7 separate regions of the Homo sapiens genome follow, and regions 1, 2, 3, 4, 5 and 6 are each linked to region 7. Evidence: fine-mapped expression QTL. A gene starts in region 7. Each other region holds a variant in brackets. All regions are shown on one strand. Distances are from middle to middle.

Region 1 (4,054 bases), 68 kb before region 7:
AATTCGCAGCTTATAGTCTTGAGCCAAGAGCTCCAGCTGTTTGTCAATAAATTTCAGTCGGTCTTGCCGCTCTTCACGCATTTCCTCGCAGTAAACCCTGAAAGCAGAGTACTGGTGAGAAATCCATGTTCCTGTCTGACTAAGCAGAGGAGCAAGAGGGGATGCCAGAAATCCCACGCCGCCCTGCCCGCTATCTTGCCTGGCAGGGCTGCACACACGCACCCAGGGGCATGGCCTTCCCCTTCCCAGGTAAGAAGAGGACCCTGCAGCCAACCATGCACTCTTCAGTCTTCGATGTGGGTCAGGTGGTGGGCACAAAACAGGGAGGGCGCTTTAAGGGGGTTTAAACAAATTCTGCCAATTAATATAGGGAAAAAAGCTCAACCTCACTAGTAATCACAGAAATGATTTTTTTTTTTTTTTTGAGATGGAGTTTCACTCTTGTTGCCCAGGCTGGAGTGCAATGGCACGATCTCCACTCACTGCAACCTCCACTTCCTGGGTTCAAGCGATTCTCCTGCTTCAGCCTCCCGAGTAGCTGGGATTACAGGCATGCGCCACCACACCCAGCTAATTTTGTATTTTTAGCAGAGACAGGGTTTCTCCGTGTTGGTCAGGCTGGTCTTGAACTCCTGACCTCAGGTGATCCATCCGCCTTGGCCTCCCAAAGTGTTGGGATTACAGGCGTGAGCCACCATGCCCAGTTGTAAATGAAATTTTTAAAGGCACTATTTTCTACCAAGGCCTGGCAAAAATGACCAGGTCTGAAGTTCTGGTGAGGGCTGATGAAATGGAAGGCCTATGGACAGTACTGGTCATGCAATGAATGGGTACGGCTGTTCTGAAGAGCATCAAGAAAACTGACTAAAACTGGAAACGCGTGTACCCTAAAACAGAATTGCCACACCCCTAGGAACTCACCCCAGGAAGACTCTTAAAAAGGTGCACAAGGGGACACATGAACAAATGTCCACTGCAGTAGGGTTTCCAATAGCAAAAAAAAAATCTAAAATTCCATCCATAGGAAAATGAGGCATATTCACAATGGAATATACTACAGCAGTTCCGATTCATAAACAAACTACACATACTAACAAGGATAGAGGGAAAAACGATGTTGAGAAAGCAAAGCCAGGTACAGTGACAGACAGTGTGATGCCACATCTGTACATCTGAAGCATGTAAAAACCTGACATATTCCTCAGCATTTATGTAAAAAGTACTGTTTGGGTGATAGAACAATGTAAATTCATGATTATGGTGCCTCAGGGCAGAGTGACACTGGGACAAGTGCAAAAGAATCAAAAGGGAACTGAACTTTTTAAAATTTTAACTTAACATAAACAACTGAGAAAGTCAATTCTGTGTGATAGAAGCAAGGTGTTTTCATATTATTCTTTAGTGACAGGGTCTCACTCTGTTGCCCAGGCTGGAGTGCAGTGGTGCGATCACAGCTCACTGGAACCCTGAACTCCTGGGCTCCAGTGATCCTCCTGCCTCAGCCTCCCAAGTAGCTGGAACTACAGGTGTGTGCCACCACACCCAGCTGATTTTTAAAATTCTTGTAGAGATGGGATCTCACTATGTTATCTGGGCTGGACTCCTGGCCTCAAGCAGTCCTCCTGCCTTGGTCTCCCA[A/C]AGTGTTGAGATCACAGGTGTGAGTCACTGCTCCTGGCTGGAATGTTGTTTTGAAAAATGTGTTCAGGCTCTGAGAATGGCTGCAGAGCTCAGCAGGGCATGGGCCAAGACCTCCAACACAGGGAATCGTGCTGCACAGACCAGGTGGGGTGATGAAGCACCCAGCCGCCCTCCTCACCAGGCTGTCTATGTGGTTCTAACATGGTCTGGTGGCCAGGGAAAGGGCTCTGGATGGGAGCCCAGAGACTCAGCCCTGCCATCAAGGCGTGTCCTAACTGCCCAAGGCAGGGGTGGAGCACCCTTGTCTCGGCAGCTCTCTCCACCTATCTGCAGTCTTGGACTCTTACTGCTGCTCCCGAGCCGCCATGTGCAGGGAGTCCATGATGAGTCGAACCGCCTCTGCAATCTGCTTGGCCCGGACCGTGTGCTGCTCAAACTTGGTCTTCACTGCAGACTGGGAGATGCACTCCTGGAACACACAGAGGCACGGAGGGAGGTGGGGGCCACCAGGGGCCTACAACCAAGGGCCAGACTCTGGTTTTCACTGCCAGGGACACAGCCAATGGGAGCTGGGGAGGCACAGAATCGCCAGATACCAGAATCAGAGGACTCACCTCAAATCTCCTCTCAAAATTCTGAAACTCAAACATCCTCACTTGAAAGCCTTCTGCGAGAGCGCCCCCTAGGAGGATTGTACTGCATTAGTCCAGAAACAACTTGGCAGCAGAGGAAAACGATGAAATCCCCAGAAACCAAGCCACTGGCTAAAGAGCAAGAGCCTCTCTGCTCTTCTCAGCATCCCCTTCTCAGAAGGATTTTCTACTGACAGACTCCTCAGCACGAGACAAAATGTCTCAAACATCAGAGAAAAGGAGGACATCTGTTCTCATCATTACCTCCTTCAGGCATGCCCTGGGCTTTCTGAATCCTGGCGTTGAGCACCTCCTTAGCAGACACAAAGAAGATGCGGTCCCCGGCCTGGGATCGATCCACCACGCCCAGCTCATCCACCAGGAAGCTGGTACAACGCTCCATGTGCTGCCGCCGCACCTGGAGCCCAAACAAATGTGTCCAGAGTGAGTGTAGGTGGCCCCACAGCCCCCACCTGCCTCTTTTATTAAAAGAATAGGTCATAAGAGGCTGGGCATGGTGGCTGACGCCTGTAATCCCAGCACTTTGGGAAGCCAAGGCAGGTGGATCACTTGAGGTCGGGAGTTCAAGACCAGCCTGGCCACCATGGTGAAACCCTGTCTCTACTAAAAATACAAAAAAATTAGCCAGGCATGGTGGCAGGCGCCTGTAATCCCAGCTACTCAGGAGGCTGAGGCAGGAGAATCACTTGAACCTGGAGGCGGAGGTTGCAGTGAGCCAAGATAGCACCACTGCACTCCAGCCTGGGCGACAGAGTGAGGGAAAAAAAAGAATAGGCAATATATTCACATGGCTCAACAGCCAAAGGCACAAACACATACACAGTGTAATGTCCCCCACTATTCTGCTCTCTCACCACCAAGTTTCCCAGACCAACGTGTGGGGGTTACTTGGCAGTGAGCGTGCCAAAGATATTTTATGCATATACAAGCAGAAATGCTTAAACGTGCCCTAGACTGCCTCTTGTTAAGCCTATATAGTGCCTCATTTTGGTGCCCTGGCAGGAAAGGAACCCTGAGGTCAAGAAACCTAAATCTGGGACCTATACTCTGACAAGCTGTGTCCTCCTGGGGCATTGTTTATAAAAGGAGTGGGCATCACTAGAACATCCCTCCTGGCTCTGACATCCTGGGGTTCTACCGATAAAATGTGACAATAGCTTCTTGTAGACACCTACCACGTGTCAGGTGTTTTTGACAGATTTCATCCTCTCAACAAGTCTATTTATCACACCATCACACTGGCCAGGAAATTGGATTACCAGAAGGGTCAAGGAAGCTAACAAAGTCACACTGCCTAGTGTCAGTCACAAGCGGGCACAGTGGCTCACGCCCGTAATCCCAGCACTTTGGGAGGCCGAGGCGGGCGGATCACTTAAGGTCAGGAGTTCAAGACCAGCCTGGCCAACATGGTGAAACCCCATCTCTATTAAAAATACAAAAATTAGCCAGGTGTGGTGGCGGGTGCCTGTAATCCCAGCTACTCGGGAGGCTGAGGCAGAATTGCTTGAACCCTGGAGGTGGAGGTTGCAGTGAGCCGAGATTGTGCCACTGCACTCCAGCCTGGGTGACAAGAGCAAAACTCCATCTCGAAAAAAATAAATAATTTGGACTCTGGCCTACTGACTGCAACTGCATGTTTTATCATCCCATATTGCCATATTATCAATCTTATTACCCTTTATTTGTTTAATTATTTTTTGTGAGACGGAATCTCACTCTCTTGCCCAGGCTGGAGTACAGTGGCACAATCTCAGCTCACTGCA
Region 2 (4,064 bases), 27 kb before region 7:
CAGCTCATGGGCTAAGAACAGCTTTATGTTTTTCTTTTTTTTATTTTTATTTTATTTTATTTTTTTGAGAACGAGTCTCACTCTGTTGCCCAGGCTGGAATGCAATGGCACAATCTCAGCTCACTGCAACCTCCACCTCCCGGGTTCAAGCGATTCTCCTGCCTCTGCCTCCCAAGTAGCTGGGATTAGAGGCGTGCACCACCATGCCAGGCTAATTTTTGTATTTTTAGTAGAGACAGGGTTTTACCATGTTGGCCAGGCTGGTCTCGAACTCCTGACTTCAGGTGATCTGCCCGCCTCGGCCTCCCAAAGTGCTGGGATTACAGATGCGAGCCACTGCACCCGGCCTTTTTTCCTTTTTTAGAGATGGGGGTCTCACTGTGTCAGCCAAGCTGGAATGCACAATCATAGCTCACTGCAGCCTCAACTTCCCCAGCTCAAGCAATCCTTGGCCTCCCAAAGTGCTGGGATTACAGCCACTGCACTTGGCTGATTTTATGTTTTTAAGTTGTTTCAAGAAAAAAACAAATCGGCAGGGCGTGGTGGCTCACGCCTGTAATCCCAGCACTTTGGGAGGCTGAGGTGGATGGATCACGAGGTCAGGAGATCGAGACCATCCTGGCTAACACGGTGAAACCCCGTCTCTACTAAAAATACAAAAAATTAGCCGGGCATGGTGGTGGGCACCTGTAGTCACAGCTACTCGGGAGGCTAAGACAGGAGAATGGCGTGAACGTGGGAGGCAGAGCTTGCAGTGAGCCAATATTGCACCATTGCACTCCAGCCTGGGTGACAGAGCGAGACTCCATCTCAAAAAAAAAAAAAAAAAAAAGAAAACAAAAATCAAAAGAAGATGTAAAAATTATGTGAAGGTCATCACCAGGTGCAGTGGCTCATGCCTGTAATCCCAGCACTCTGGGAGGCTGAGACGGGAGGATAACTTCAAGCCAGGAGTTTGAGACCAGCCTGGGCAACATAGCAAGATCCTGTCTCTACAAAAAATAAAAATAAATAAATTAACCAGGCGCAGTGGCTCACACCTGTAATCCCAGCACTTAGGGAGGCCAAGGCGGGCGGATCACTTGAGTTCGGGAGCTTGAGACAGGCCTGGAAAACATGGTGAAACCTCGTCTCTACTAAAAATACAAAAATTAGCCAGGTGTGGTGGCAAGCACCTGTAATCCCATCTACTTGAGAGGCTGAGGCAAGAGAATGGCTTGAACCTGGGACGGGGAGGTTGCAGTGAGCCGAGATCGCGCCACTGCGCTCCAGCCTGAGTGACGGAGTGAGACTCAGTCTCTAAATAAATAAATAAATAAATATTTAAAAATTAACTGGATGTGATGGCACATGCCTGTAGTCCCAGCTTCTTGGGGGGCTGAGGCAGGAGGATCACTTGAACCCAGGGGTTTGAGGCTACAGTAAGCTATGATCCTGCCACTGCACTCCAGCCTGGATGACAAGAGTGACACCAAGTCTCAAAAAGAAAAAAAAATAAATGACATGAAAGTCAAATTTCAGTGTCCATAAATGAAATTTTGCTGGAATGCAGCCTCTGTGCTACTAGGGCAGAGCTGAGGGTTGTCACAGAGCCGGCAGAGCCAATTTGCAAAGATTTATGATCTAATCCTTAGCAGGAAGTTTGCCAACCTTTGATCTGGACTGTCTGACTCTTCTACAAGCAACACAAATTACTTCTTTCTTTGTTTTTGTTTTGCTTTATGAGACAAGGTCTCGCTCTGTTTCCCAGGCTGGAACACAGTGGTGCAATCATAGCTCATGCAACCTCGACTTCCCGGGCTCAAGAGGTCCTCCTGCCTCAGCTTCTTCAGTAGCTGGGACCCCAGGTTCAAGCCACCACACTTGGCTATTTTTTTTTAATTTTTGAAGAGATAGGGTCTCGCTATGTTGCCCAGGCTGCTCTTGAACTCCTGGCCTCAAGCAATCCTTCAACTTTGGCCTCTCAAAGTGCAGGGATTACAGGCATGAGCCACTGCTCTCGGCCTTTTTTTTTTATATATAATAAAGTAAAACATTCAAGGTTGGCTCCCTAATAGTCAGCCTTTGTCTACTTTTGCCCCCAGTCCTTCCT[CTT/T]TCTCTGATTTGCTTCCTGAACCCAAATAACATGGCTCAGCCCTGCCCAGGAGCCCCGGGGGTTGGCAGGACAGAGGCTATTTCCCCTTTTGACAGATGGAAACTCCAAGGCCCAGAAAGGGGCAGGAACTTGCTAGAGCACACACAGCCTTCTGAACTCCTGTCACTCAGCCTGCTGCTCCTTACCACAGCCACAGCTCCCCTGCCCCCACTGTCAGTGGAGAGTACTGTGGCCCACAACTCACGCGCCCATGTTCCTGGCATCTGCATTCGCCATCCGCACCTCAGGGCCCACCAGCTTCACAGACTGGTACTCGCTGCCATGCTGTGCCAGGAACTCTTCCACCTGAGCCTTGTGGTGCTGCTCCTGGGGTTGGGGATGGGGAAGGGGATGCGGGGGTGAGGAGGAGGACACAGCTTCCACCCAGGGACTGTAGCACCTCCTGTCACTGCCAGGCTGTGCCCCTTCATCTCTGGCACCCCGGCCATCTGCTTTCCTGTCTCCAGACCTTTGCCCATGCCAGCCCTGTGCCAGGAACACCCTTCCCTGGCCATCCTTTGCCCATTCTCCTCTGACCAGGTCAGGCCTCCTAAGAGCCTCTGTCATCAGGATAGAGCTCCGCCACCACGCTCAGGATCCCACATCCAGAGACATTGTTGATTCCTGGGTGTGGCCCAGAGATCCACTTTGTTACAAAATGTGCCAGGTGATCCTCAACTTCGCTTTGAAAAACAACAGTCCAGGCCAGGCACAGTGGCTCACGCCTGTATTCGCAGCACTTTGGGAGGCCGAGGCGGGTAGATCACCAGGTCAGGAGTTCAAGACTAGCCTGGCCAAGATGGTGAAACCACGTCTCTACTAAAAATACAAAAATTAGCCGGGCATGGTGGCAGGCACTTGTAATTCCAGGTACTCGGGAGGAGGCTGAGGCAGAGAACTGCTTGAACCCGGGAGGCGGAGGTTGCAGAGGCAGAGAACTGCTTGAACTTGGGAGGCGGAGGTTGCAGTGAGCCAAGATCGCACCATTGCACTCTAGCCTGGGAGACACAGCAAGACTCCATCTCAAAAAAAAAAAAAAAAGGAAAAACAACCATCCAGCTGGGTGCGGTGGCTCATGGCTGTAATCGCAGCACTTTGGCAGGCGGAGGCAGGCAGATCACGAGGTCAGGAGATCGAGACCATCCTGGCCAACATAGTGAAACCCTATCTCTACTAAAATACAAAAAATTAGCCAGGCACGGTGGCAGGCGCCTGTAATCCCAGCTACTCGGGAGGCTGAGGCAGGAGAATGGCTTGAACCTGGGAGGCAGAGGTTGCACTGAGCTGAGATCACGCCATTGCACTCCAGCCTGGGCAACAGAGCAAGACTCCGTCTCAAAAAAAAAAAAAAAAATACAAAAAATTAGCCAGTTGTGATGGCGCATGCCTGTAGTCTCAGTTACTTGGGAGGCTGAGGCAGGAGAATCGCTTGAACCCAAGAGGCAGAGGTTGCAGTGAGCCGAGATCGTGCCACTGCACTCCAGCCTGGGTGACACAGCGAGACTCTGTCTCAAAAAAAAAAAAAAAGAAAAGAAAACCAATTTGACTGCCACCAGGTACAATTAGGAAGGTAGGAAGGATTAACAGTGACAGGGATGGAAGTGAAGATGACAACAGTTAGAAGCAACTAGATGCGTCCTGTGCACCAGGCACCTTTTACGAACTTCGCATGTCAGCTTGCTTAGCCCTTGCAGCAATTCTGTGTGATTGCACAATTATTATCCCTATTTTATTTTATTTATTTATTTATTTATTTTTATTTTTTTTGAGACGGAGTTTTGCTCTTGTTGTCCAGGCTGGAGTGCAATGGCGCAATCTCGGCTCACTGCAACCTCTGCCTCCCAGGTTCAAGCGATTCTCCTGCCTCAGCCTCCTGAGTAGCTGGGATTACAGGCATCTGCCACCACACCCAGCTTAATTTTGTATTTTT
Region 3 (4,064 bases), 52 kb before region 7:
TACAAAAAAATATAGCCGGGTGTGGTGGTGGCCGCCTATAATCCCAGCTACTTGGGAGGCTGAGGCAGAGAATTGCTTGAACCTGGGAGGCGGAGGTTGCAGTGAGCCGAGATCGCACCACTGTACTCCAGCCTGGGTGACAGAGCCAGACCAAGTCTCAACAAAGAAAAACACACACACACACACACACACACAAAAACTATTGGTCTATTTTAGTATAGCACAGGTGTGCTACAGAAAATTTGGAAACTGAAGGGGAAAAAAACCCATAACCCCATCATTTTGTGATAAGCAATGTTAACATTTTATTTACTTATTTATTTTTTATTTTGAGACAAGATCTCGCTGTTACCTGGGCTGGAGTGCAGTGGCGCAATCACAGCTCACTGCAGCCTCAACCTCTTGGGTCCAAGCAATCCTCCCACCTCAGCCTCCTGAGTACATGAGACCACAGGCATGCACCACCACGCCCCACTAATTTTTTTAAAATTTTTTGTAGAGACAGGGTCTTCTTATGTTGCCCAGGCTGCTCCCAAACTCTTGGGCTCCAATGATCCTCTCACTTTGGATTCCCAAAGTGTTGGGATTAAAGTGCTGGGATTAAAGGCGTGAGCCACCATGCCCAGCCAACATTTTTTTTTTTTTTTTCTGAGACAGAGTCTTGCTCTATCGCTCAGGCTGGAGTGCTGTGGCATGATCTCGGCTCACTGCAACCACCACCTCCCGAGTTCAAGCTATTCTCCTGCCTCAGCCTCCCAAGCAACTGGGACTACAGGCACTCGCCACCATGCCCGGCTAATTTTTGTATTTTCAGTAGAGGTGGGGTTTCACCATGTTGGCCAGGTAGGTCTTGAACTCCTGACCTCAAATGATCCACCCACCTTGTCCTCCGAAAGTGCTGGGATTACAGGCATGAGCCACCACGCCCGGCCCAACATTTTGTTTATTATAATTTTTTTTTTTTTTTTGAGACAGAGTCTCACTTTTGTCACCCAGGCTGGGTGCAGTGGTGCAATCTCAGCTCACTACAACCTCCACCTCCCAGGTTCAAGCGATCCTCCTGCCTCACTCAGCCTCCTGAGTAGCTTGGAGTACGGGCATGTACCACCACACCCAGCTAATTTTTTTATTTTTCGTAGACAGGGCTTCACCATGTTGGCCAGGCTGGTCTCAAACTCCTGACCTCAAGTGATCCATCTGCTTCGGCCTCCCGAAGTGCTGGGAATACAGGCGTGAGCCACCGTACCCAGCCATATTATCACAGTCTATTTTTGTGTGACTGTCTCTCTTGCTCTCACTCAATCCTACATATCTTTGTAGCTTATCTTTTCATATAACAACATTTTAGAGGTCATGAGACTTGACTCCAAAGTCCTAGAGGTCTTTGGTCAAAGGTCAAAAGAGGCTGGGCATGGTGGCTCACACCTATAATCCCTGCACTTTGGGAGGCCCAGGCGGGTGGATCACTTGAGACCAGCCTGGCCAACATGGTGAAACCCCTTCTCTGCTAAAAATACAAAAATTAGCCAGGCATGGTGGCAGGCACCTGTAATCCCAGCTACTCGGGAGGCTGAGGCACGAGAATTGCTTGAACCTGGGAGCTGGAAGTTGCAGTGAGCTAAGATCGCGCCATTGCACTCCAGCCTGAGCAATAGAGCAAGACTCCATCTCAAAAAAAAAAAAAAAAAGATCAAAAAGAGGCGTACACACCAGAAGGAGTGCCCAGGGTAAGACTGGGAATTCCGACCCCAAAAGTGGACCCCTGCCAGGTCCCTCAGAGTTCCCACCACGGCGAAAGCTACTTCTTGAGCAGAGCCCACCAATCCCAGGAAGTCAAAGGGCAAAGGCCCTCCTGGATGAGGGGGTGTGTGCACAGCTGACTGTGCCTGGGTCTGTCACTGCCTCCCCAGCCACCCTAATCTTACTGCTCAGTTCTCCACCCAGCAGTAAGCTCACTCTCTCTAGATTGGAAATGAGGTGTTGCTCCCCAGCAAGCACACGTGAAAAACTTCCAAATGGGGCCAAAGTATGTTGCACAAGGTCCTGAAAAGCAGAAAGAACACCCGGAAGAGGTACATGAAGACCAAATGCCAAAACGGACTTTTAGTAACTAACCATCCCAAAGAGTGGGCAGAAGACAGACCGACCCAAAGCGGGATAGGGACCCACATGTGTGCCCAAACCAACAAGTTCTTGTGCAATGTTAATGATTCCTCTGGAGACAAGGGAAGGAAGTGACCCCACTTC[C/T]GTTTCTACATTCCTCCTCAGCATGACGCCACAGCTATGAGAGATGTTTTCTCAGCATGGAAGCCATATGTCCAGGGCTTAAAGACAGTACAGCTCTGAGAAAGGAAACTGCAAAGAAAATGCTACTCTCACTCTTCCAAAGCAGCAAAGGAGAGTGCGCTGAAATGAGGCTTGCCATGGCCTGGCAGATCAGACTGTTCGAGAAAGAGGGGATGTGGCAGGCACAAGAGGAAAGCCATCCAAAAGGAATAGAAAAGGGATCAGGGGTCAGGCACGGTGGCTCATGCCTGTAATCCCAGCACTTTGGGAGGCCGAGGCAGGCAGCTCACCTGAGGTCAGGAGTTCAAGACCAGTCTAGCCAACATGGTGAAACCCCGTCTCTATGAAAAATACAAAAAATTAGCTGGGTGTGGTGGCGCATGCCTGTAGTCCCAGCTACTCCAGAGGCCAAGGCAGGAGAATCACTTGAACCTGGGAGGTAGAATTTGCAGTGAGCCAAGATCTCGCCACTGTACTCCAGCCTGGGTGACAGAGCGAAGTCTCTCTCTTTAAAAAAAAAAAAAAAAAAAAAAAAAAAGGGATCAAGGATGGGGCATGATATAGCACTACCTATGACAGGTTTTGTAATCAGGCAGAGCTGGGTTCAAATTGTGACTACATTATTTCTGGGCTGCTTAAACTTAAGCAAGTTATTTCATCACAGAACCTTGGTTTCTTCATGTGTACAACAAACAAGACACCTACTGGAGAGAGAAACTGTCTCAAATTATCTTTTTTCTCTACTCTCACACCATAATCATCAACACAAGAGACTTCTGTGACCAAATGTGAGGGGGTTTCTTCCCCACACACCAACCAGCGGACAGCAGCTGGGTATCCTCTCATTCAGTTCCCATGCTGTCTACCTGGAGAGAGTGTCAGATCCCACAGGTTGAGGGCTCAGTCCCCAGGACTGCCCCGCCTCTCCACCACCACCCCTCAAACATACCAGTTGCAAGTCTGGGCCTCCAGAATTTCTCACCGACTGGCTTCAGGCTGGGGTTCCCATGACCCCCTCTTTGAGTTCAATTAATTTGATGGAGCAGCCTACCTAGCCCAGGGAAACACTTACTTACGTTTACCAGGTTATTATGAGGGATATCGCAAAGGATACAGATAAGGAGACGCTTAGGGCGAGGTATGGGGGAAGAGGCGTGTAGTTTCTGTGCCCTCCCTGAGCAGGCCTCTCTCTAGGAACCTCCGTGTGTTCAGCTATCCACAAGCTCCCTGAACTCTGTCCTCTTGGATTTTTATGGAAGCTTCATGACATCAGCATTCCTTCCCCCAGGATACAGGGTCCACCCCTCTCAGGGGAGGGTTTTAAGGCCCACAATCAGGTGGGGAAAGATTAGGGTGGAAGGAGAGCAGAAGGTCAGAGGCCTGCCCCTGAGGCCTAACACATCTAACATTATATCAAAAAACCATAACAAGGGCTGTGGATAGGAGTTATGAGCCTGGATCCGTGGATGAAAACCAATATCCTAATACCACAATACCATCTAAACTGTGAGAAGACTAAAGTTGATGACGCAAGCAACATGCTTCACTACAGTAAGAGCTAAAGGCAGCTTTACATGTTATAAAACAATAACAACAAACTCTACCAGCAAGATCACAAGACTCTCTCCATGAACACCCAGCCTTCAGGGAGGGCAGAGGCAACTCCGCCAACTCACACCACACACACCACTCCCTTACCCGCTATCACGGAGATCAAATAAACAGGTCAGCTGGGGAAGGATCAGCGATACCCCACTCCAGAAGTGACTTGCTGCAGG
Region 4 (4,064 bases), 22 kb before region 7:
GCTGTCGGGGAGACGTGGGGTCACAGAGAAGCCAGCCAGCCCCACCTGCCATAGCCCTGACTCACATCTCCCTGGGCCCCCAGTGGGTCAGCACCATCCAGCCCCCTCCCACTCCCTAAGAGGGTCTTGGAGATAATGCTCCATCCCCAGGAGATCACCAAGCCGCTCTGAGAGAGGGCAGGGGAGGGCTTGGCACTCTAGTGCTTCTCCCGAGAGCTTGTAAAATGCAGATTCCTGGGTCCCACCCCGCTCAGAGATTCCATCTGAACAGATCCTGGGTGAAATCAGCAAATTTGCATTTTAAACACATCACATCCTCCTTCCTCTCCCTCATTCCAGCGGTGAAGGACCACACTCAAATATGCTATGAGCTATGAGCCAGTTCCCCAGGGACCAGTGAGGTCCATTCTGTCCCTGGCCGCATCTGCACCCAGTCCCTTCTGTCACCATGAATGCAGGACATCCGTCCTGCTTATGACTATGTCTTACTGTCTGGTGCAAACATGAAATAAAGGTTTACTGAGTGAATAAGTGACTCTGCCCTGGGGTGACAGTGCAGATGGCTCTGGTAGCCCAGCCTAGGCCTGGAAGGGGATGGCAGCCTCCTACGTGTCCTGTGACCAGCAAGAACAGACAGAGTACCACTGACCACCACAGCAGGAAAAGAAGGCATCACGCTGAGCTCAGATGTGAGGACAGAGGCAGTGAGTTCATAGCAGGCCCCAGGAAGGTGGCCCTGGCCCCAGGGAGACACTGTGGGGTCACAGTGAGAATGAAATTAGGGCTCTGGCCCCCTCCCACACTCCCCAGGGGCTGGGGACCCCCTACCTTGGTTGGCCCGTTGCCATGGATCAGGACCGGGAGGGTGTCATAGGCCAGGTTCCTCGCTCTCACATGGCCCATTTCAAACTTGAGCACGACCTCATCTGGGGGTCAGAAAGCACAGTCCCACCCAGCATCAGACCCAGAGGTCAGGCTCAGGGTCCAACCAGCTGGGCTCAAATCCCAGCTGTGCAGTGAGTAGATTATGTCCTCGGGCAAGTCACTTCTCTCTAAGCCTCAGTTTCCTCATCTATAAAATAGGAATAATCCCTTCTTCATGGGGTGAGGGGGAGGATTTGTGTTGAACAAGCGTGGGGCACCAAGCCTGGCCCATCATGAGCACAGAATCCACGGCAACCCCTGTACTTGTTGTGGTTACTTACAGTCAGAAGCAGGGGCTGGGAGAAGAACGAAGACCTGGAACATCCCAGCTCCAGGCACCTCAGAGAAGCCCCAAGAGAAAGGGTCTGGGACGCGCCTTCTCTGAGTAGGCAGAGCAGCACTGAGAAAATGCCAGAGCCACATGCAGGGGAGGCCTGGGCATGATCAGGACAGATCTTGTCCCAGTGGAGGGAGCCCCTGCAGCAGGGTTCCAATACTCATGTTTTTTGTGTGTGTTTTTGTTTTTTGTTTTTTAGAAATGGAGTCTCATTCTATTGCCCAGTGTGGAGTGTAGTGGCATGATCTCGGCTCACTGCAACCTCCGCCTCCCAGGTTCAAGTGATTTTCCTGCCTCAGCCTCCTGAGTAGCTGGGATTACAGGCACATGCCACCACACCCAGCTAATTTTTGTATTTTTAGTAGAGACGGGGTTTCACCATGTTGGTCAGGCTGGTCTTGAACTCATGACCTCTGGTGATCCACCCGCCTTGGCCTCCCAAAGTGCTGGGATTACAGTGCCTGGCCCCCAATACCCATGTTTGACCCTATTAGTCTGCACATAGGAAAATGGGTATTTCAGCTGGGCACGCTGGCGCACACCTGTAATCCCAGCACTTTGGGAGGCCAAGGTGGGAGGATCACTTGAGCCCAGGAGTTTGAGACAAGCCTGCGCAACATAGTGAGACCCTGTCTCTATTTTAAAAATTAAAATAGGGCTGGGCACGATGGCTCACGTCTGTAATCTCAGCACTTTGGGAGGCCAAGGCAGGTGGATCACCTGAGGTCAGGAGTTCGAGACCAGCCTGGCCAACATGGTGAAACCCCATCTCTACTAAAAAAATACAAAAATTAGCCGGGCATGGTGGTGTGCGCCTGTAATCCCAGCTACTTGGGAGGCTGAGGCAGGAGAATCACTTGAACCTGGGAGGCGGAGGTTGCAGTGAGTCGAGAATTCGCCACTGCATTCCAGCCTGGGCGATGGAGCAAGACTCCATCTTAAAAAAGAAGAAAAAAAAAGGAAAACAGATAGCTCCTGACCTGCGTGGATCTGAACTCAGTGCTTCTTAACCCCCAGAAACCACAGGCAAAGGGCATTTTCTGCGTTTCTCTGGGAGCAGAGCCGTAGCTTTCATCAGATTCTCAAAAGGGCCCATTTATCCACAAAATCAGCAATCAGTGGATCCGGTTCACTTCCCTTTTGTAAAGATA[A/G]GAAAACTGAGTCCCCTGTGGGGAGGAGGTGTGACTTGCCTGAGGTCACTCAGGAAGACAGGAAGACCTGCGGCAAAGCAATGTCATCACCAGCCACAGACATGAGGCCAGGCCCAGGGATGTTTGCGGCATCAAGGGTCAAGTAGCCTTTTGCTTCCCAAGCTGCCTGTCCCACCAGCTGAGTTCCTGCCCCTAGCCCAGGACTCCTTCACCTGGAAGGTGGGAGGGCCGGGAAAGTGGGGAAAGAGGGCCCACCTGTAAGGACCTGGTATGCAGGGCAGGGGGTCCAGCACCTGCTGTGCGCATCCCCCAACTCCTCCCAGGCTGAATGCTCACTTGTCCCCCGCCCCCAAGAGAGACATGGCTCTGCGCCAGGATATCCAAGTGGCCCCTGGGGACCTGGGGATGAGGCCAGTGACCTCTCAGCACAATGGCCAGAAAGAAGCAGCCCATTTCTCCTCCCTGGGCTCGGGCCCTGCCTGGAATTCTTCCTATCACCCCTCTGAGGATCCACCCCTCCCCGTGGGGGCTGCTCACCCAAGGCTCCATCCAGGTTCTGGAAGATACGGCAGCGGTGGTCCAGGGTGATATTGATCTGCTCCTGCAGGAAAGAAGGTACCAGACTGCAGCAGGGACAGGCCCTGGGGGAGGCTGGGGCTACATCTCACCCAGTGTGGGGAATCTGTCCCCAAGTTCAGCCCTCATTCCCCACACCGACTCTGCCACGTCACATCAGGGCAGCTAGGTGCCCAGAGAAGGCCAGCAGCCAAGCTCCTGGGGTCTACAGTCTAGTGGCTCTACTCACAGAAAACCAGGGACTCTGAACTGGAAGGAATCTAAGAATGCAGCCGGCTCACCTACAACAATGACGGCCGTTAAGAGTAACCAGCACCTGCCAAGCACTCCACTACACGCACATAGCTACTCCAAATATTCTTTTTTTTGAGAAAGAGTTTCGCTCTTGTCACCCAGGCTGGAGTGCAATGGCACGACCTCGACTCACTGCAACCTCCGCCTCCTGGGTTCAAGCGATTCTCCTGCCTCAGACTCCTGAGTAGCTGGGACTACGGGCATGTGCCACCATACCCAGCTAATTTTTTTTTTTTTTTTTTTTTTTTTTGCTAGAGATGGGATTTCACCACATTGAGCAGGCTGGTCTCGAACTCCTGACCTCAGGTGATCCGCCCCCGCCCCCCGCCTCCCAAAGTGCTGGGATGACAGGTGTGAGCCACCGCACCTGGCCGCTACTCCAAATATTCTACACGAGTCGGGTGCGGTGGCTCACTCCTGTCATTCCAGCACTTTGGGAGGCTGAGGCAGAAGGATCACTTGAGCCCAGGAGTTTGAGACCAGCTTGGGCAACATAGCAAAACTTCATCTCTATAAAAAAATCTTAAAATTAGCCAGACATGGTGACGCAGGCCTATAGTCCCAGCTACTCAGGAGGCTGAGGTGGGAGGATCGCTTGAGTCCGGGAGGCTGAGGCTGCAGTGAGCTATGTTTCTGCCACTGCGCATCAGCCTGGGTGACAGTGAGACCCTGTCTCAAATAAATAAATAAACTATTCTACATATATTAATCAATTTAATCCTGACAACATCTCTGTGAGAAAGTATTATCATTATTGCTTTTTTTTTTGAGATGGAGTCTGG
Region 5 (4,064 bases), 46 kb after region 7:
GTGGGGGGAATCCTGGACAATACCTGGGCTTTCTTGGGCAGGGGTCCCTGCGGCCTTCCGCAGTGCATTGTATCTCTGGTTAATCGAGAATGGAGAATGGCGATGACTTTTACTAAGCATACTGCCTACAAAAACATTTCTAACAAAACACATCCTGCACAGCCCTAAATCCCTTAAACCTTGAGTCCATACAGCACATGTTTTTGTGAGCATAGGGTTGGGACAAGAGTTACAGATTAACAGCATCTCAAAGCAGAACAATTTTTCTTAGTACAGATCAAAATGGAGTTTCTTATGTCTTCCTGTCTCTGCATAGACACACTAACAATATGATCTCTCTTTCTTTTCCCCACAATTTGTCACCTGGCTGGCTTCATTCATTATTTCATTACACCAACCACCCGGCCCCTGTAGGTGTTTGGGTTGGCAACCCCAGCTTTCTTTCTTTCTTTCTTTCTTTCTTTATTTATTTATTTTTCTTTGAGACAGAGTCTAGCTCTGTCACCCAGGCTGGAGTGCAATGACATGATCTCGGCTCATTGCAACCTCCGTCCCCTGGGTTCAAGCGATTCTCATGCCTCAGCCTTCCGTGTAGCTGGGATTACAGTCGTGTGCCACCATACCCGGCTAATTTTCGTTTTTTTTTTTTTTAGTAGAGATAGGGTTTCACCATGTTGGCCAGGCTGGTCTTGGACTCCTGACCTCAAGTGATCTGCCCACTTCAGCCTCCCAAAGTGCTGGGATTACAGGTGTGAACCGCTGTGCCCGGCCCTCGGCATAATTTAAGTGGGAAGCCCAGTGTTATGATGACTGTCTCCGGTCATTCCAAGGCTGGGCACCTGCTTCTGGCTGAGTCTTGACCCCTCTCTTCTTCTTGGTGCGCCCTCTGGCCCTGCATGTGTACCCACCCACCTGGCACTTTCAGAAGAGTGGCTGTGACTCACTTAGACAAAAACTGCATTTTCCTGTCCTGATAGTCGAAAACTGCTTGGATGAGCCTAGACAATTTAGGGATTTGAAGGAGTTTCCCAAGCCCCTAATGTGTTCTTCCCTGGCTGAGTGGAGTGAGCCAGCCCCATGGGGCCCAGTGCCCTGGTCTCCCCACCATCACCTGCACCAGCCGGTCTCTGTCTTCCCCCTCCCCACCCCATCGTGATCAATGGGACAGGCCCTCAGGTTGCAGGGCATGAACCTGAGGGAGGAGCCAGACCTCGGGCCCTGAAGGGAGCTCTGGCCACTCACAGTCCCTCCAGGGAGCCCCTGGGTGTGGGGTTTGGGCTCTGACTGCAGCAGGAGGAGGCCCAGGAAGGACCCACCCTGGCTTTTCTCCTTTCCAGTGTGTCTCTTTCCCAGAAAAATATGGGTCCTAGTGGCCAGTGTCCCTGGGAGCTGTCGAATCAAGCTTCCTGGATACCTGCCACTCGGCCAGCTGGTGGCACCTTTAGAGGGCTTTTCCTGCCGCTGAGAACACGAATCTGTTGGGGAAAAGACTGCTAGATGAGCCCTGCCAGGTCCCGACACACTGCCTGGCTGTTGCCTGGGACCACAGTCTTTGCTCACCTCTTGGCTAAGCTTTAGCCTCCTTCCAGGAATGCTTCCTGGATCTCAGCCCTCTGGAGTTGTGTGTCTTCATCTGCCCCTAGTTTGCTGTGTGACTTCAGGCAAGCGGCACAACCTCTCTGCTCTACTCGCTTAGGATGCCTAGAAGAATCTGAGCAGAGCACTCTGGAAGGGACTGTGACAGAGGCAGTGGAGAAAGGGCTGGTGCAAGGAGAATGTTTATGTGGCAGCACCATGAGTAGCATGAGGCCGAGGGCTGGGAGCCCGATTTCCTGTGTTCGACTTCCAGTTCTAGGCTGGGCACGGTGGCTCACACCTGTAATCCCAGTACTTTGGTAGGCCGAGGCGGATGGATCACCTGAGGTCAGGAGTTTGAGACCAACCTGGCCAACGCGGTGAAACTCCATCTCTACTGAAAATATAAAAATTAGCCAGGTGTGTTGGTGCATGCCTGTAATCCCAGCTACTTGGGAGGCTGAGGCAGGAGAATCAATCTCTTGAACCCGGGAGGCGGAGGTTGCAGTGAGCAGAGATCGTGCCACTGTACTGCATCCTGGGTGACAGAGCAAGACCCCATCTCAAAAAACAAACAAACAAAAACAAAAAACCCACCAAATTCCGGTTCCATCGCTTGGCAGCTCCATGACCTTGGGGACAATTATAGCACCTACTGCATAGGATGGCTGAGAGGATTAAACAAAATTATGCAAGAGATGCACTTGGCACCATTGAAATGTTCAGGAAAGGCCATTGTTAGGATTGGTACCTGAACAGCATGGAACCTGCCAAAGGAAGAGAGGAGCTCCCGGGGC[G/A]CAGGTGTCAGCTCACCCACGATTCCTACAGGTGGAGCTGCGGCTATGAAGCCTTGATTTCCAGGGGTTGGGGACCTGGATTTGAGTCACTTTCGTTTGTGCCACGCCTGAGCATGGCAGACCCCCAGGGAGGAGTTGGGAGTGGGCTCTCGCAGGACCCCTGCCATGGTGGGTGCTGTGAGCTGCCCTCCCAGAGGTGAGTTCTCTGGGTCCTGCCACACAAAACACATGGCAGGGGCGTGGATCCCTACACCCAAACCCATACAAGGCCTTGGACCTGTGCTCACCAACTCAGATCACGGGGATGCAGGGGGTTCACCTTCTCCAAGGAAGGGCCAGGGACACAAGAGAAAACAGGGAGCTATTTTGAGAAGGTGTCAAGGCTGGGACACTAAAATTAGAGGCTTGGTTCCTAAAAAGACATTGGCGCCAACCGAGGCCTTGAAGAGGGGCTCTTCAGCACGGAATGTGACCCCAGGAAGCACGCTCACAATTCTGGACAATGAGGTCAGCCTGCAGGGCGCATGGGACCGCCCAATGGCCGGTGGGCATGGGCACCTCTCCCCCCGCCAGCCCCACCTGCAGAATGCTGGAACTGGCTCCAACCGCTTCCCGTCTGCACTGAGCCAGCGCAAGGGCGAGCGGACAGAGCCTCATGTTCCCGGTGCTGCTGCCCTTCCAGGCTGCCTTCCTTTTTTGACTGTCCTTTTGGCTTCTTATGCTTTTGGCTCCATTCTGGATGTGCGTCATGGGGTGGGATGCAGAAGCAGCAGCCAGCTTGGAGGCTGGTGTTCCCGGAGGCTGAGGGCGGGATGGGGGGAAATATGAACCAGGAAAGGGCCTGGTATCCCCAGCCCAGATGGGCCTAGGCTGCTGTCCCCCAGGGACAGAGAAGCTCAAGACTTTCTTTTTTTCTTTTTTTTTAGGCAGAGTCTTGCTGTGTCTCCCAGGCTGGAGTGCAGTGGCACGATCTCAGCTCACTGTAACCCCCATCTCCCAGGTTCAAGCGATTCTCTGCCTCAGCCTCCTGAGTAGTTGGTATTATAGGCATGCGCCACCACACCCCACTAATTTTTTGGATTTTTTAGTAGAGATGGGGTTTCGCCATGTTGGCCAGACTGGTCTCGAACTCCTGACCCCAAGTGATCTGCCTGCCTTGGCCTCCCAAAGTACTGGGATTACAGGTGTGAGCCACTGTGCCCAGCCCAAGACTTTCTTTCTTTGTCTCCTCCTCTGGCCTCAGAGGAAGCTGGGGAAGTCCTTACAGAGCCGACTTCCTGGGGTGAGGCGCCAAAGGGCTCTTAGTCCCGCTGCTCGGAGATGGAGGCGACCCCTCTCCCTCCTCTCAGGGCCCCGGCCTGGAGTCCAAGGCTTCATCATTTGCCTTTCCTCTTAGCCCAAGGTGTTTTCCCTGGAGAGGGAGGGTGGCAAATTTGATCCTGTCCCCACACTCCTGTTTAAATTCCCTTAGCGACTGCTCATGGCCCTGGGATGGGGTCTGAATTTATCACCGTCCAGAAGGCCCCACAAATTCCAGCCCTGCCCAGCTCTCACTCCAAGCCCTAGACCCGTGACCATCTCTCCTGTTTTCCAACACACCAAGTTCACACCCTCTCCTCCTCGCCCAGCTGAGTCCCACTTACTCAATGTAATGTGAGACAATGGAAATGTCCCTTCCCTAGAGAGGCCTGC
Region 6 (4,064 bases), 33 kb before region 7:
GCTGAGATTGTGCCATTGCACTCCACCTGGGTGACGAGCAAAACTCCGTCTCAAAAAAAAAAAAAAAAAAAAAATTAGGCATGGTGGCCAGCACCTGTAATCCCAGCTACTTGTGAAGCTGAGGCAAGAGAATCACTTGAACTCAGGAGGCAGAGGTTTCAGTGAGCCGAGATCGCACCACTGCACCACTGCACCACTGCACCCCAGCCTGGGCGACAGAGCGAGGCTCCACTTCACCAAAAAAAAAAAAAAAAAGGACGTAGAAAATGAGAGGTGGGGTGCCCGGTGCGGTGGCTCATGCCTGTAATCCCACCACTTTGGGAGGCTGAGGCAGGTGGATCACAACATGAGGTCAGGAGTTCGAGACCAGCCTGACCAAAATGGTGAAACCCATCTCTACTAAATATACAAAAATTAGTCGGGCATGGTGGCAGGCGCCTGTAATCCCAGCTACTCGGGAGGCTGAGGCAAGAGAACTGCTTGAACCTGGGAGGCGGAGGTTGCAGTGAGCTGAGATGGCGCCACTGCACTCCAGCCTGGGCGACACAGCGAGACTCCATTCAAAAAAAAAAAAAAGAAAAAAGAAAATCAGAGGTGGGTTGGGGCTTGAAGTACATAGGAGATATGAATGTTGTAAAACTGTCAGGAGACGAAAAATTCCTTTCTGCAGTTTCTCTTCTGTGAAAGGGCTAAGGACAGAGTTTGCTTAGTAGGTAATGTTGCCTTTAAGTACAGTGGTGTATTTTTATTCAAGATTGTGCTCTTTTATCAAAATCCTATGGAAATAAATGTTCTGGGATCATTAAAATAAAAAAAATAAATAAAATAAAAAGGTGCCTTAGGCCAGACACGGTGGCTCACGCCTGTAATCCCAGCAATTTGGGAGGCCGAGGTGGGTAGCTTACCTGAGGCCAGGAGTTTGAGACCAGCCTGGCCAACATGGTGAAACCCAGTGTCTACTAAAAATACAAAAATTAGCCAGGGATGGTGGCACACGCCTGTAGTCCCAGCTACTGGAGAGGCTGAGGCAAGAAAACTGCTTGAACTTGGGAAAGGAAGGTTGCAGTGAGCTGAGATCATGCCACTGCACTCCAGCCTAGGTGACAGAACGAGACACTGCCTTAAAAAAAAAAAAAAAATTTACACACACACAATTAAATAAATAAAGAATACAAAGATTAGCTGGGCGTGGTGGCACACGTCTATAATCCCAGCTACTCGGCAAGCTGAGGCATGAGAATCTCTTGAACCTGGGAGGCAGAGGTTGCAATGAGCCAAGATTGCGCCACTGTACTCCAGCCTGGGCGACAGAGTGAGACTCGGTCTCTAAATTAATTAATTAATTAATTAATTAAAATAAATAAAATGAAATTGTGCCTGGTTCACAACCAGCCTGGGCAACACAGCCAGACCCCGTCTCTATTATTTAAAAAAAATATATATATATATATATAAATAAAATCTATATATATTTCTTTTTATATATATATATATATACACACACACACACATGAAAAGAAAAAAAAAAATGGTACCTGAACTTTCCAGGACAGGAACAGGTGTTGGGATTCTCACGGAGAGAACACAGGGCCTAGCACCCTCAGCAGGCCACCTGCTCCTGCTGTCTGATGAACTTGGACCCGACAGCCCTTCCTAATGCCCCTCATCCCACCTTGGCCCTTTCCTCCCCAGCTCCACCTGGGGGAAGTCTAGGGAACCAAGCTAAGCCATTCCAATAGCAAACCAGGAACTGAAAACCTAGTAGCTTACGGTCAAGGCAACTCAAAGCCACACGGTGGCAACAGCAGCTCAGGGACCAAACTCCATCTCAGGTTTCTCAATC[C/T]CTCTACTCCTACCTGCCTGCAGATACCCATGCCAGCACCCCTATGTCAAGAGTCCCAGAAAGGGTGGCCAGGCCAGCTTGCCAGAAGACCCCAGACAGTGAGCGGCACTGATGGAGAGGCAGCCTCCCTGCGGCCCCAGCCCAGGCATCAGGGTCCCACCTTGTTGTTGCCCAGAGACCACTGGCCAAAGTGCTCCATCTCCTCCACCAGCTCATCACAGGCCACCTCCGTGAAGATGGGGAACCAATAGACATCCGGGCAGGGCTGGGGAGGGCAGGGACTCAGTCAAGGGGGTCCACAGTGGCACCACAGAATCCTCCTTCCTCTTCAGGGCCACACACCCAAGCCAGGGAGCCCTCCCAGTGTCCCCGGGGAGCAGGGCCTTGTCAATCCTGGAGAGACTGAGTGGGGAGGAGGAGGCAGAGCCCAGAGACAGACTTTCCCAGCCGAGGTCACAGAGCTACCAGCGCCAAGGTCAGACAGAAACATGGGCATGGAGGGAGGGAGGGGGCAGAGGCCCCAGGCTCGGGGGAAGCAGACATTAGTGAGTGGAGAGAAGCAGCCACTCCCCGAAGTGGTCCAGGCATGGTGGGCCACAGTGGCCATCACATCCAGGATGTTTTCCTCCTTCCTGCCTGGGCCAGGTAGAGAGGCCCTGCAGACTCCCACAGCCTCCAGCAGGAAAGTGCCAACAGGTAGAGGGGCCATCCTGCCTCCCCCCACCCCCATCCCACCACCCCCCACTCCCATCCCGCCGCCCCCCCATTCCCATCCCGCCACCCCCAACTCCCATCCTGCCGCCCCCCAACTCCCATCCCTCCACCCCCAACTCCCATCCTGCTGTCCCCCACTCCCCAGGGCAAGCAGTTTCCCTTCTGTGCCCTGCCCCCTGCAGCAGGCAAGGCTGGTCCAAGAGGGTGTCCATGGCCCTTACCGTCTCCACCAGCTTCCCTGCCAGGGCTTTGGTGTAGTTCTGGTGGATGTACTTCTCCTTCCAGTCCTGTGGGAAGTGGGAAGCAGGCTAGGGTCCTCACCATTGGCTCAACTGCCAGGGATGCTCAGAGCAGACCCCTCAAAGTGGGAGTGAAGGTGTACGTGCTTGACAGAGGCAGGTGTTCACCTGCACCCACTGGGTGCGTGTGTGTTGTCTGGGTGCACAGGTGTGCCCATAGGAGGTGGTGTTTGCACATGTATGTACATGTGTGTGCTTGTGTGTATATGTCTGTGTGCAGGCATGTGCTTACACCCATCAGCTGTGAGCTCCCAACGTCTAGAAACAGTTACAACTGTCTCCCCTTCTGATCATCACAACACCCTCATGGGTAAGACAGGCTGGGACAGTATACCCATTTTGGAGCTAAGATAACTAAGGTCCCCAAAGCTGGAAGGCTCAACTAAGTCCCAGATGATGGCAGATCTAGGCCACAAACCCAGGCCTCTTGAGTCCTGGTCCCTCCTCCAATAGATGGTGTTGCCTCTCTGGACACCCTTCTCTCCCTACCCAAATCCTGCCCTATAGCCTCCTGGGGTGAAGGGAGGGTGGCAGGTGGCCTACAGGGGTCCTGGCTGTTGTAAGACTCTGAGAGGGAAGTCCCTCCGACTGCAGGATCACTGGGCCCCTTTGCTCCCAGCCCCTATGTGCCCACCCTGGCCTCACCTCGGGGTTGCTGAACACCTCCCAGAGGTCGTTGTGCAGGTGGGTGGTGCGGTAGCTGTCTAGGGAGAGCAGATGGCCAAGGGTGTGCCGGTTGGTCAGGAACATGAACACATCCTGGGGAGGACAGGCCCGGTGGAAGAGGCGCTCCCCCACCCCTCCCCTGCCCTCACCCCTCCCCTGCACGCTCCCAGACGGGCAACAGTGCAGCCTCCTCCACCCGCCGAACTGAAGTTCCCAATATCAGAGACCAAGTGCAGTCACCGCTATGTCCCCAGGGCCCAGCCCAGGCCTGACACTAAGAATGTGATCAGGGAAGTCTTCCCAGAGGACTGAACACAGAATGAAAGAAAAAATGCGTAAAAGAAAAGGAGCGTGTTCTGGTCCTGAAATGTTGGTCACAGGGGAAAACTTCATCTTGCTGCATGTTTAAAAAAAAAAAAAAAGTCACAAAAATATATGGGGTGGGGCGCAGAGACAGGGTGAGGTGTCTCTCGGGCACATCACTTGGAGTACCTTTAGGTGGAAAGTTCCGTTTTCTTTGGGCTATTCCAAAAATGTAAATA
Region 7 (4,064 bases):
GGCTGGGGAGGAGGGAAGCACCCACTCAGGACAGTGGGGCACACACTGCAATCCAATCTGCCTTGAGGAAGTAGAAAGAGCGCTAGACTGGAGCCCAGCTGACCTCGGACCAACCACCTCTGTCTGGACCACCCTGGACAGTCACTTCACCTGTCTGGGCCTCAGTTTCCTCAAGTATAAACTGCAGAGAGGGCCAGGTGTGGTGGCTCACGCCTGTAATCCCAACACTTTGGGAGACCAAGGTGGGCTGATCACCTGAGGTCAAGAGTTCAAGACCAGCCTGGCCAACATGGTGAAACCCCATCTCCACCAAAAATACAAAAATTAGCTGGGCATGGTGGCACATGTCTGTGATCCCACCTACCTGGGAGGCTGAGGTACAGGAGTCGCTTGAACCGGCCGGGCGCGATGGCTCACGCCTGTAATCCAAACATTTTGGGAGGCTGAGGCCAGCGGATCAAGAGGTCAGAAGTTCAAGACCAGCCTGGCCAGCATGGTGAAACCCCATCTCAACTAAAAATACAAAAATTAGCTAGGCATGGTGGCACGTGCCTGTAATCCCAGCTACTTGGGAGGCCGAGGCAGGAGAAACACTTGAACCTGGGAGGTGGAGGTTGCAGTGAGCTGAGATTGTGCCACTGCATTCCAGCCTGGGCGACAGAGCGAGACTCCATCTCAAAAAAAAAAAAAAGAATTGCTTTTACCTGGGAGGCAGAGGTTGCAGTAAGCCGAGATCGCATACTGCGTTCCAGCCTGGGCGACAGAGCAAGACTCTGTCTCAAAAATAAATAAATAACTAAATAAATAATACATTAAGTAAAATAAAAAAAATAAACTGCAGAGAGGAAGACCACCCTGGCAGGGGCTAAGCAGACCACAGGGGACATGGATGAAAGCACAAACTTATCCACAAAGTGAGCCACACCTTCTACCCCCATTCCTCCCCTGTCCCCCTCAAGACCCCTCATTCCCATGGTCATGAGGCCTCCTGGCTCTGGAACCAGACACCTGGGTGGGTGGGGTAAATCCTGGTTCCAAGGCCCACAAGTTGTATGATCTTGGGCAAGTGAATGAACTCTGGAGCCTCAGTTTGCCCAGCTGGAAAACGGGGATAATAGAAGGAAACACTTACCAGGGTAGCAATCATGCCTAACTGATGCCTGGCCCATAGTGAGCACTGGGCAGAATAGCCATTGTCGGTTATTATTATGAAAACTATTATTATTTGAGCCTTTCTGTGCTGAATGGGACTCAGCTGTCACCCTTTCCTTCCCGAAGCAGGAACCGCAGCCCCAAGAGGGGAAGTGATTTGTTCAAGTCACCAGCGATTAAGTGGACAAGGAGCCGGAACCCAGACTCCCTCTCCAGCCCAGGCCTCCCATTCAGGTCGTTCCCAGGGAGGCAGCCCGACACCAGCCCTCCCGCCCGGATCCGCGCTCCCGCCCCCGGCCTTCGCTCCCTCACCCTCCGGCTTGGCGTCGCCCTTCGCTTCGGCCAGCAGCAGCCAGCCCAGCAGGGCCAGTAGCAGCAGGGGCCGCATGGCCGAGGTATGGGGGACGATCGGCCGACCCGGCGGCGCTCGCAGGGCTGGAAACTTCGCGACGGGGCCGCAGGTCCCGCTGCCACGCACTGGGCCCGCCCCGGGGGCGGCACCACCCCGCCCCTCCACGCCCTCCCCCGCGCCTGCCTAGTGGGGAAGGGTTTTTCTGCAGATATGCCCAAGTCCGGGCCTCTCCTTATTAGGGCAGCTCCCTCCGCCTCTCTGTGCAGCTCCCGGGGCTTCCGTCAGGCCCTGCCGTCTCCCTCCCTTCTCTGGGGGGTTCACTCCGACCAGAAAGAGGGCGGTGAGAGGAGAGAGAGGCCACGATTTCTAGACCCCAGGTTCTGGGCCAAGGCTCCATGGCATCGATAGCCACGAGCCCCTGTTTGCTCGCCTGAAAAGTGGGGCTTATGATAGCGTCTGTTCATTGGGTCTTGCACGGGTTAATGGCGTTACCTGTAGCGCACTTAGAGCAGCCCCAGGTCAAGCCCCAAGGAAGTCAGTTTTCATGATTTCATTAGTCCTTCCCAAAACCCAAGGGGTGAGGGTGGGCACGGATGCGTTCAGAGACACGGACACCCCTACGTGGCCCACCCAGGCACTGGAAATGCAGGAAGCCCGTCTCCACTCTCCCCAAAAGGCAATCACTTGATCTCCCTTTGTGTCCCTGGGAGGCAAACCTCTGAGCCAAGGAAAGTCTTGCTTCTGAGGTTTTTTTGTTTTTTGTTTTTTTTTTTTCATTTTTTTGAGACAAGGTTGCTTTCAGTTGCCCAGGCTGGAGTGCAGTGGCGTGATCACCGCTTGCTGCAGCCTCGACCTCCCGGGCTCAAGCGATCCTCCCATCTCAGCCTCCCAAGTAGGTGGGATCACAGGCCTGAGCCACCATCCCTGGCTAATTTTTCTACCTTTTTTTTGAGACAGAGTTTCACTCTTGTTGCCCAGGCTGGAGTGCAACGGCGAGATCTGGGGTCACGGCAACCTCCGCCTCCCGGGTTCAAGCAATTCTCCTGCCTCAGCCTCCCGAGTAGCTGGGATTACAGGCATGTGCCACCATGCCCAGCTAATTTTGTATTTTTAGTAGAGGTGGGGTTTCTCCATGTTGGTCAGGCTGGTCTTGAACTCCCACCCTCAGATGATCCACCCGCCTTGGCCTCCCAAAGTGCTGGGATTACAGGCTGAGCCACCACACCCTAGAGAGATTAATTGTTAAATGAGTAAACGAATCGATGAAAGTTTTTAGGGCCTCTTCACAGATACCCAAAGCCCAACAAACAACTCAACGGTCTCTAGAGTAAGGGCTCCTGGACCAGATGTCAGACAGGGGCAGCCACCTCTGAACAAAAATCCTTCCTTCCTTGGAAGAAACCTCAGACAGAGGCCGGGCACGGTGGCTCACACCTGTAATCCCAGCACTTTGGGAGGCTGAGGCGAGCGGATCACAAGGTCAGGAGTTCAAGACCAGCTTGACCAACATGGTGAAACTCTGTCTCTACTAAAATACAAAAATTAGCCAGGCGTGGTGGCGCGCGCCTGTAATCCCAGCTACTCAGGAGGCTGAGGCAGTAGAATCACTTGAACCCAGGAGACTGAGTTTGCAGTGAGCCAAGATTGAACCACTGCACTCCAGCCTAGGCGACAGAGCGAAACTCTGTCTCAAAAAAAAAAAAAAAGAAAAAAAAGACCTTAGACAGGGACCCAGGAGCCTTCTCCCAGCTGATTAGGCTCCAGAGGAGTGGGTGGCAGGTGTAACCCTAGGCTGGCAGGGGGTTCCCTGCAGGGGGCAAAGGGGTGGGAGAGAAGGAATGTCACGAATGTCAATGGACGACAAAGAGCAGGCTATGCGTCTGTGCTGGGAAAAGATATTAATAAATCAACAGCATTCAGATGAGCTGGGTGCGGTGGTTCATGCCTGTAATCCCAGTACTTTGGGAGGCCAAGACAGCCAGATTGCTTGAGCCCAGGAATTCAAGACCAGCCTGGGCAACATGGTGAAACCCCTTCTTTACTAAAAAAACAAAAATTAGCTGGGCATGGTGGCATGTGCCTGTAGTCCCAGCTATTCAGGAGGCTGACTGGGGAGGATCACTTGAGCCCGGGAGGTGGAGGTTGCAGTGAGCCATGATCACACCGCTGCACTCCAGCCTGGGCAAGAGAGTCAGAACCTGCCTCAAAAAAAACAAACAAACCAAAAAATAAAAATAAAAACAAAATAGCATTCAGATGCTGCAGCCAGAGAAATACACTACCCATATGATGTTAAGTGGAAAAGCAGAATATATAGTATGGTTCCACTCAGTAAAAATACCTTCTTTTTTTTTTTTTTTGAGATGGAGTCTCACTGTATAGCCCAGGTTGGAGTGCAGTGGCACAATCTCAGCTCACTGCAACCTCCGCCTCCCTGGTTCAAGCAATTCTTTGCCTCAGCCTTCCGAGTAGCTGGGATTACAGGTGCCTGCCACCATGCCTGGCTCATTTTTGTATTTTTAGTAGAGATGAGGTTTCACCATCTTGGCCAGGCTGGTCT

Alleles and levels. Positions count from the first base shown, and alleles are read on the strand shown. Sizes are in standard deviations (SD) of each study's normalised expression. Not every link is listed here.
As copies of T replace C in region 3, the expression in whole blood of the gene that starts at base 1,603 in region 7 goes down (moderate effect, 0.43 SD a copy in GTEx).

The links.
Region 1: its variant is fine-mapped to the expression of PLOD1 in whole blood (INTERVAL, PIP above 0.99).
Region 2: its variant is fine-mapped to the expression of PLOD1 in whole blood (TOPMed, PIP above 0.99).
Region 3: its variant is fine-mapped to the expression of PLOD1 in whole blood (TOPMed, PIP above 0.99). The same link has a PIP of 0.9 or more in T cells, blood mononuclear cells and monocytes.
Region 4: its variant is fine-mapped to the expression of PLOD1 in whole blood (TOPMed, PIP above 0.99).
Region 5: its variant is fine-mapped to the expression of PLOD1 in whole blood (INTERVAL, PIP above 0.99).
Region 6: its variant is fine-mapped to the expression of PLOD1 in whole blood (TOPMed, PIP 0.99).

The regions. Positions count from the first base shown.
Region 1 is chr1:12,000,035-12,004,088 of GRCh38, reverse strand. It overlaps MFN2 (mitofusin 2), which reads right to left. Exons shown (of 19, transcript NM_014874.4): 9 at 2,535-2,688; 10 at 2,253-2,320; 11 at 1,986-2,107; 12 at 1-97. Among named protein-coding and RNA genes, the nearest start is that of MIIP, 17 kb to the left of the region's middle. RefSeq lists an enhancer at 2,362-3,291. The variant A/C (reference allele first, on the strand shown) is at 1,639.
Region 2 is chr1:11,959,043-11,963,106 of GRCh38, reverse strand. PLOD1 (procollagen-lysine,2-oxoglutarate 5-dioxygenase 1) reads right to left here. Exons shown (of 19, transcript NM_000302.4): 10 at 2,340-2,461. Among named protein-coding and RNA genes, the nearest start is that of MFN2, 19 kb to the left of the region's middle. The variant CTT/T (reference allele first, on the strand shown) is at 2,093.
Region 3 is chr1:11,984,216-11,988,279 of GRCh38, reverse strand. The region is part of intron 2 of MFN2 (mitofusin 2); the gene reads right to left. Among named protein-coding and RNA genes, the nearest start is that of MFN2, 5.8 kb to the right of the region's middle. The variant C/T (reference allele first, on the strand shown) is at 2,248.
Region 4 is chr1:11,953,779-11,957,842 of GRCh38, reverse strand. It overlaps PLOD1 (procollagen-lysine,2-oxoglutarate 5-dioxygenase 1), which reads right to left. Exons shown (of 19, transcript NM_000302.4): 6 at 2,950-3,013; 7 at 829-926; 8 at 1. Among named protein-coding and RNA genes, the nearest start is that of PLOD1, 21 kb to the right of the region's middle. The variant A/G (reference allele first, on the strand shown) is at 2,413.
Region 5 is chr1:11,886,156-11,890,219 of GRCh38, reverse strand. No RefSeq gene overlaps it. Among named protein-coding and RNA genes, the nearest start is that of RNU5E-1, 20 kb to the left of the region's middle. RefSeq lists an enhancer at 787-4,064. The variant G/A (reference allele first, on the strand shown) is at 2,373.
Region 6 is chr1:11,965,031-11,969,094 of GRCh38, reverse strand. PLOD1 (procollagen-lysine,2-oxoglutarate 5-dioxygenase 1) reads right to left here. Exons shown (of 19, transcript NM_000302.4): 14 at 3,502-3,615; 15 at 2,779-2,844; 16 at 2,004-2,108. Among named protein-coding and RNA genes, the nearest start is that of MFN2, 13 kb to the left of the region's middle. RefSeq lists enhancers at 1,677-2,177, 2,178-2,678. The variant C/T (reference allele first, on the strand shown) is at 1,844.
Region 7 is chr1:11,932,256-11,936,319 of GRCh38, reverse strand. It overlaps PLOD1 (procollagen-lysine,2-oxoglutarate 5-dioxygenase 1), which reads right to left and starts at 1,603. Exons shown (of 19, transcript NM_000302.4): 1 at 1,465-1,603. The coding sequence starts at 1,540. RefSeq lists a silencer at 1,325-1,794 and enhancers at 971-1,894, 2,015-2,064, 1,895-2,820.